Regions from separate parts of the Homo sapiens genome. Here region 2 is linked to region 1. The links come from fine-mapping of genetic effects on gene expression. A gene starts in region 1. The other region holds a variant in brackets. All regions are shown on one strand. Distances are from middle to middle.

Region 1 (2,911 bases):
TTTTGTTCACTATCTTTAATTCTTTAAACCCAGGTGCCTCCCTTCAGCCACAGGGGAACTGGTAAAAGCTTGCTGTGGATTCTTGTAGACAGTGTTCAATGCTATTTACCCACAAATATGTCTTTATAGAAAATATATGATATTCTTTGGTAAACTTGTATTTTTTTTTAACACAAATGGTATTGTATTATGCTTAGTCTGCAATTATTTTTAAACTGAGTCTAATACATTGGAGATCTTTCCATGCCACACCCATAGACCCATCTCCTTTTTCACTGCTGCTAAGCGGTATTACACAGTGAAGAAAGTTTATTTAAGCACTCCCTATTGATGGATATATTACCATTGTTTCCAGTTATTTTTTATTTTTTACTGCCCCAGACAGGGCTGCTGCAAACAACCTTAAGATCAATCGCCTTCTTGGGCATTTATAATGTCATTGTTTCTCCAAAAAGGATCCAGAAAGGTGTGGTAGTGCCAGGTCATCCATGCACAGCTTTATACTTGAAGGACACTCTGTCAGATTGCCCTCGAGTGTCAGGCAGCCTCTGAATATGCTAGTCAAATTTAAAAGTTGGTGCAAAGTGGGAAAGGTCTCGAGGGAATTTTCCGGGGGTGGTGGAAATGTTTCGTATACCGACTGTGGAGGTGGTTATACGGGTGTTTACATTTGTCAGAACTCAACAAACGGTACTCTTAAAATGGGTGCATTTTGCCATTTGTAGATTATATTCCACTGACATTCATTTAAAAAACCAAACAAAAACAAAACAAAACAAAAAAAACGTGCAGTGGCCTGGGAACAGGGTAAGAGAGAACACCACCCCTTTCTAATGTGGGCTTTTAAAACGCTCGCTTTTCCCCCCAGGCTCCTTCCTGCCTCCAGGTGTCACTACAGCCTCCTTTCTCCCCGTTGCCCGGTTTCGCCCCAGCCTCCTTTCTACCAGCAGCCTTTCACCCGGAGAGTGCCAAAGAGCCCGAAAGGAGCTATCATGGGGTCTGCCTGCCCCGCAATCGCGGCCCACGCTCTGCGGGGGCGCCCGGAGTCGAATACCAGCGGGGAGAGAGAGGTCCCTCTCCACCCGCGGGACCGCCCCACGCCCCTCGCAGCCCCAGGAGGTGTCCGCGCTGCGGCACGTGGGCCCTCCCGGCAGCGTGGGGCGGTGCCGAGCCGGCGGCCCGCCCCCTCCCCACCCATCAAGGCGTGGCTGGCACGGTCCCGCCCACTCGGCTCCGGAGCCCAGTCGAGTCCTGCCCGGCTAGAAGCCGGCTGTCGGTCTCCGTGTCGCCGCCGCCGCCCGGCATCGTGGAGCTGGGGCCCCCTTTTGCCTGGGAGTTTTGTAGTCGCCTAGGGTCAGCGGTGACATCCCAAAGGGCAGGCCCGGCAGCCGCCATGGTGGCCAAGGATTACCCCTTCTACCTCACGGTCAAGAGAGCGAACTGCAGCCTGGAGCTACCCCCGGCCAGCGGTCCGGCCAAGGACGCTGAGGTAGGGCCGCGCCCTGCACCTGGACCTCTATGGGTCATCTGCCTGTCTCGTCTGCCTCCATCTCCCATTCTCGGCGCCCGTCCAGTGTCACTGTCTCTGTTTCCATCTCTCACTCTCCGTGTGTGCCACTTTCTCTCTCTACATCTCTCCCACAGTCTTCTTTGTGTCTCCCCGTCGCCATCTCTCACCCTGTCTCCTTTTCTCTCGCTTTTTCTCTGTGGACCAAGCACTAGCTGCCTCCTCTCTCCCTGTCCCTCTACCTGCCGGTCTGGGAGCAACTGCCTCCTTGCCTTTGCAGGGCTCTCAGACTGTCCATCTTCTGTCTGGACTCTCAGAGGGACTTTCTCCTACTGTCAGCAAGCCCCAGTGTCAGGGAAGTGTCAGCAAGCCCCAGTGTCGCTACCCTTTAAGCGAGTTTTTTTTGCCTGGGTTGTGAGAGCAGAGGGACGTACCAGCCCTCTCACCTGTCAGACTTGGCCTTGCAGCCCTTTGGCAGCAAAAACAGGACACAGCGCCTCTGCCTATCACCTGTGGCCAGTGAGGGTCATTCAGCCGGGGGGCTGGGGCTAAATGAGTAAATTGGAGTGTCTCCCACATGGATCTTGAAAATGAATTAAAGTCCTTAGGGTCAATGGAAAGCTGCCTTGGAACATTGGAAACATTTCTCTTTCTGGGAACTTTCCTGTGCCTTGCGGGCGATGTGAAGGAGTGCTCCCAGGTTATGTTTAGTCTGCCTTTTCCTCTTGCGTGTTATTTCTCTGGCACATAGCTCACTGGCCTTAAAGGTTGGGTTCAGCTGGAGGAGAAAGCATCCCTCTCTTTGAGGGTCTTAGGGAATACAGTCGCTTTCGCTAGATTACAGCTTTGCTGTGGTCAAGCTGCGGTGGAACCCACAGGACCCAGCTAGTCATTGCCGCTCATGCGTGTATCTGGGAGCTTTCCACTCTCCCACACCTCACTCTGCGAACATCAAACATCACCACCACCACTGGGGAAAGGCTGAAGGCAGGTGTGCATCCGGCCTTGTCACAGCATTCTTGAGGTTCCACCCACTCGCCTTCCTTGGGTCTGCTCAGCTGTATGCACTTGGCTCACTGAATCATGTATATTCGGGAGCACACCATCAAAGATTCATTTCCTCTAGCAAGAGCTGCTCCAGGCTGACAGGACTCCAAGCAGTCTCTGGTTGTATTCAGCTTTCTATACGCTGAGCACAAACTAACTTCTCCCTCACTCAAACCCAACCCTACACTCCAGCTCAGTCGAATATTATCACAAAGAGTTTTTGTTGCCAGCAGCTGTGAAAGTGTGATGGCCCTAGTGGCATTTGCATAGAATTCAGGTTGGTCAGGCCTGGAATGGATATAATATTTTTTCAGTGGGAACTTCCTAATTTAATCAACATAGGAGCAGCGCAATTGG
Region 2 (2,911 bases), 34 kb after region 1:
GAACATGTATAGTCTTCCAACTCCAAAACAATCCATTAATAGTTTACCAGTTTCCCTCTAGCACTATTCTAGGCATAGGTGCAGAGCTCACGTACTCTGAGCCTAGTTTTGGGTTCCTCACAGTCTATTCAGCCTTATCTCTGTCTGGGTGATCTGCTCACTTTTAGGTTAAAGCCTCCCACAGTGACTGTGGATGATCAGTTTCTCTTGCATCTCTGTCAGTCTCAGCCTCACACATTTCCAAGCTATGCAGTTAGGTGCACAAATGTTCATATTTGTCACCATTACAGCCTCCTGGGGGAGTTGCACCTTTTATTAGGATTAAATATTCCTGTTTATTTCCTTTAACGCTTTTTGCCTTGGATTTTGTCGTCATCTTCTTCTTTTTTTTTTTTTTTTGCATTTTGCTTAATGTGTTTTATTCCATCTCTATTTTCCTCCTCCCTTTGTTATTTGGCTGGGCAAGGAGTTTTTATCTAGCTTAGGGGGGAGTATTATGTCACAGTTATTCTTGGAAAATATTATCTTTATGGGCTGAGTATATATTATTCTACATAACCAGTCTCCTATTAACACATATTTAGGCTGTGAATATTTTTATATTAAATAACTCTATGTTGAATCTTTTTAATGCATTTGTCCTTTTTTTTTTAAATTACCTTCTATTGTGCTTTGTTTTCTGATAATATAACATCATTTAAATATTGAGGCCGGGTGTAGTGGCTCACACCTGTAATCTCAGCACTTTGAGAGGCTGAAGCGGGTGGATCACCAGAGGTCAGGAGTTCGAGACCAACCTGGCCAACATGGCGAAACCCTGTCTCTACTAAAAATACAAAAAATTAGCCGGGCGTGGTGGCACACGCCTGTAATCCTAGCTACTCTGGAGGCTGAGGCAGGCAGAATTGCTTGAACCCAGAAGGCAGAGGTCACAGCGAGCAGAGATTGCGCCACTGTACTCCAGCCTGGGTGACAGACTGAGACTATGTCTCAAAAATATATATATATATTGAGGCTGGGGCTGGGCATGGTGGCTCACGCATGTAATCCCAGCACTTTGGGAAGCCGGGGCAGGTGGATCGCTTGAGGTCAGGAGTTTGAGACCAGCCTGGCCAACATGGTGAAACCCCGTCTCTACCAAAAAACACGAAAATTAGCTGGGCGTAGTGGTGCATACCTGTTGTCCCAGCTACTTGGGAGGCTGAGGTGGGAGGATCACTTGAACCCAGGAGGTGGAGGTTGCAGTGAGCTGAGATCATGCCACTGCACTCCAGCCTAGGCAACAGAGTGAGACTGTCTCAAAATAAATAAATAAATAAATAAATACTGAAAAATATAGTGAAGCACATAAAAGAGAATAAAAGTCACTTGTAATCCTACTTCCCATCACCAAAAAACTTCCATTAATATTTTGGTACATACTCAGGCAATCTTACCTTTTACTATACTTGCATGTGCATTTTTTTTTTTTTTTTTTTTTTTTGAGACGGAGTCTCGCTTTGTTGCCCAGGCTGGAGTGCAGTGGCGCAATCTCAGCTCACTGCAAGCTCTGCCTCCCGGGTTCAAGCCATTCTCCTGTCTCGGCCTCCCCAGTAGCTGGGACTATAGGCGCCCGCCACCACGCC[C/T]GGCTAATTTTTTAATATTTTTTAGTAGAGACGGGGTTTCACCATGTTAGCCAGGATGGCCTCAATCTCCTGACCTCATGATCTGCCCGCCTCAGCCTCCCAAAGTGCTGGGATTACAGGCGTGAGCCACCGCGCCCGGCCGCATGTGCATTTTTTAAAACAAAATGACTATCACACTGTATATGCTATTTTTTTACTCCCTTTGGTCTTAACGGTATAAAATAACTCTACAATAGAAGAGTATTTTTCATGTCGTTAAGTAGTTTTCAAAGACTTGATTTTTTTTTTTTTTTAATAGAGACAAAAATCTCCCTATGTTGCCCAGACTGGTCTCAAACTCCTGGCCTCAAGCAGTCCTACCACCCTGGCCTCCCAAAGTGCTGGGATTATAGGCATGAGCTACCACACCTCGCCACAGACCTGATTCTTAATGGACTCATAAAGCATTTCATCAAAAGAATGTACAGTTGAGTTAATCACTCTCCTGTTGTTGAACATTTGTTTCTGTTTTTTCATCATTATAGATAACAGTGCTTTCAACATCCTGATCATGTGTATGTCTGTATTTCTTTCTTTCCTTTGATTATACTCCTAGAAATGGAATTCTGGTCAAAGGGTGTGAATACTAAAGGCCGTTGATACGGCAAGGCTTCTGTTCTTGATGTGTGTCAGTTTTGGATAGAATTGCTTCTCTGTTTTCACATCTAAATCTAGACTTCTTACATTTCTCCTTCTCTTTTGCTACAGTTTTTCTCTTTGCTGTGATATCCCTCAAGATAGCTCTTCCCAGGGGTCCCTTGGGTTTTCCATGCAAGCCAAGGTGGTGTCTTACTTATCTCTGTATCCACAGTGCCTAATACTACACATTACTTAGGATGTGCTCAAAAATTAGTACTTGCTATTATTATCACCGTTATGACTAGAAAAGGCAGCCATTGCTGCTCCTAAGCTCTCTGCAGAGCCTGGCAGTGGCTGCCAGTGATGGGGCCCTGCCCATCTTCTTCAACTGGGCTGAAGGAGAATATGTGTCCCCTCCCCCAGTTGTAGCCCCTCCAGGAAGTATTGCTATGGCAAAGAAGGGTTTCTAGCAACCACTGCCTCTCATTGCTCCATCCTCTGGCCCTTAGATCAGGGAGTTATTTTATTCAACCCAGATGCAGCATGAACATATGATAAATTAGTGGTCTCCATTAATGTTATTTGGATCTACTGTGTTATTTATTCTGCCTAGACTTAATGGGGAGAGAGTCAATACAGAAAGGTAGGTAGTCCTGCTCTAGAGATTG

What was found. PIP is the estimated chance that this variant, and not a neighbour inherited with it, causes the effect.
Region 2: its variant is the best candidate, but not a certain one, in a credible set for the expression of ARHGEF3 in whole blood (INTERVAL, PIP 0.89).

The regions. Positions count from the first base shown.
Region 1 is chr3:56,800,281-56,803,191 of GRCh38, reverse strand. ARHGEF3 (Rho guanine nucleotide exchange factor 3) reads left to right here and starts at 1,243. Exons shown (of 10, transcript NM_019555.3): 1 at 1,243-1,489. The coding sequence starts at 1,394. RefSeq lists a silencer at 1,074-1,243.
Region 2 is chr3:56,766,156-56,769,066 of GRCh38, reverse strand. The region is part of intron 2 of ARHGEF3 (Rho guanine nucleotide exchange factor 3); the gene reads left to right. Among named protein-coding and RNA genes, the nearest start is that of ARHGEF3, 34 kb to the left of the region's middle. The variant C/T (reference allele first, on the strand shown) is at 1,626.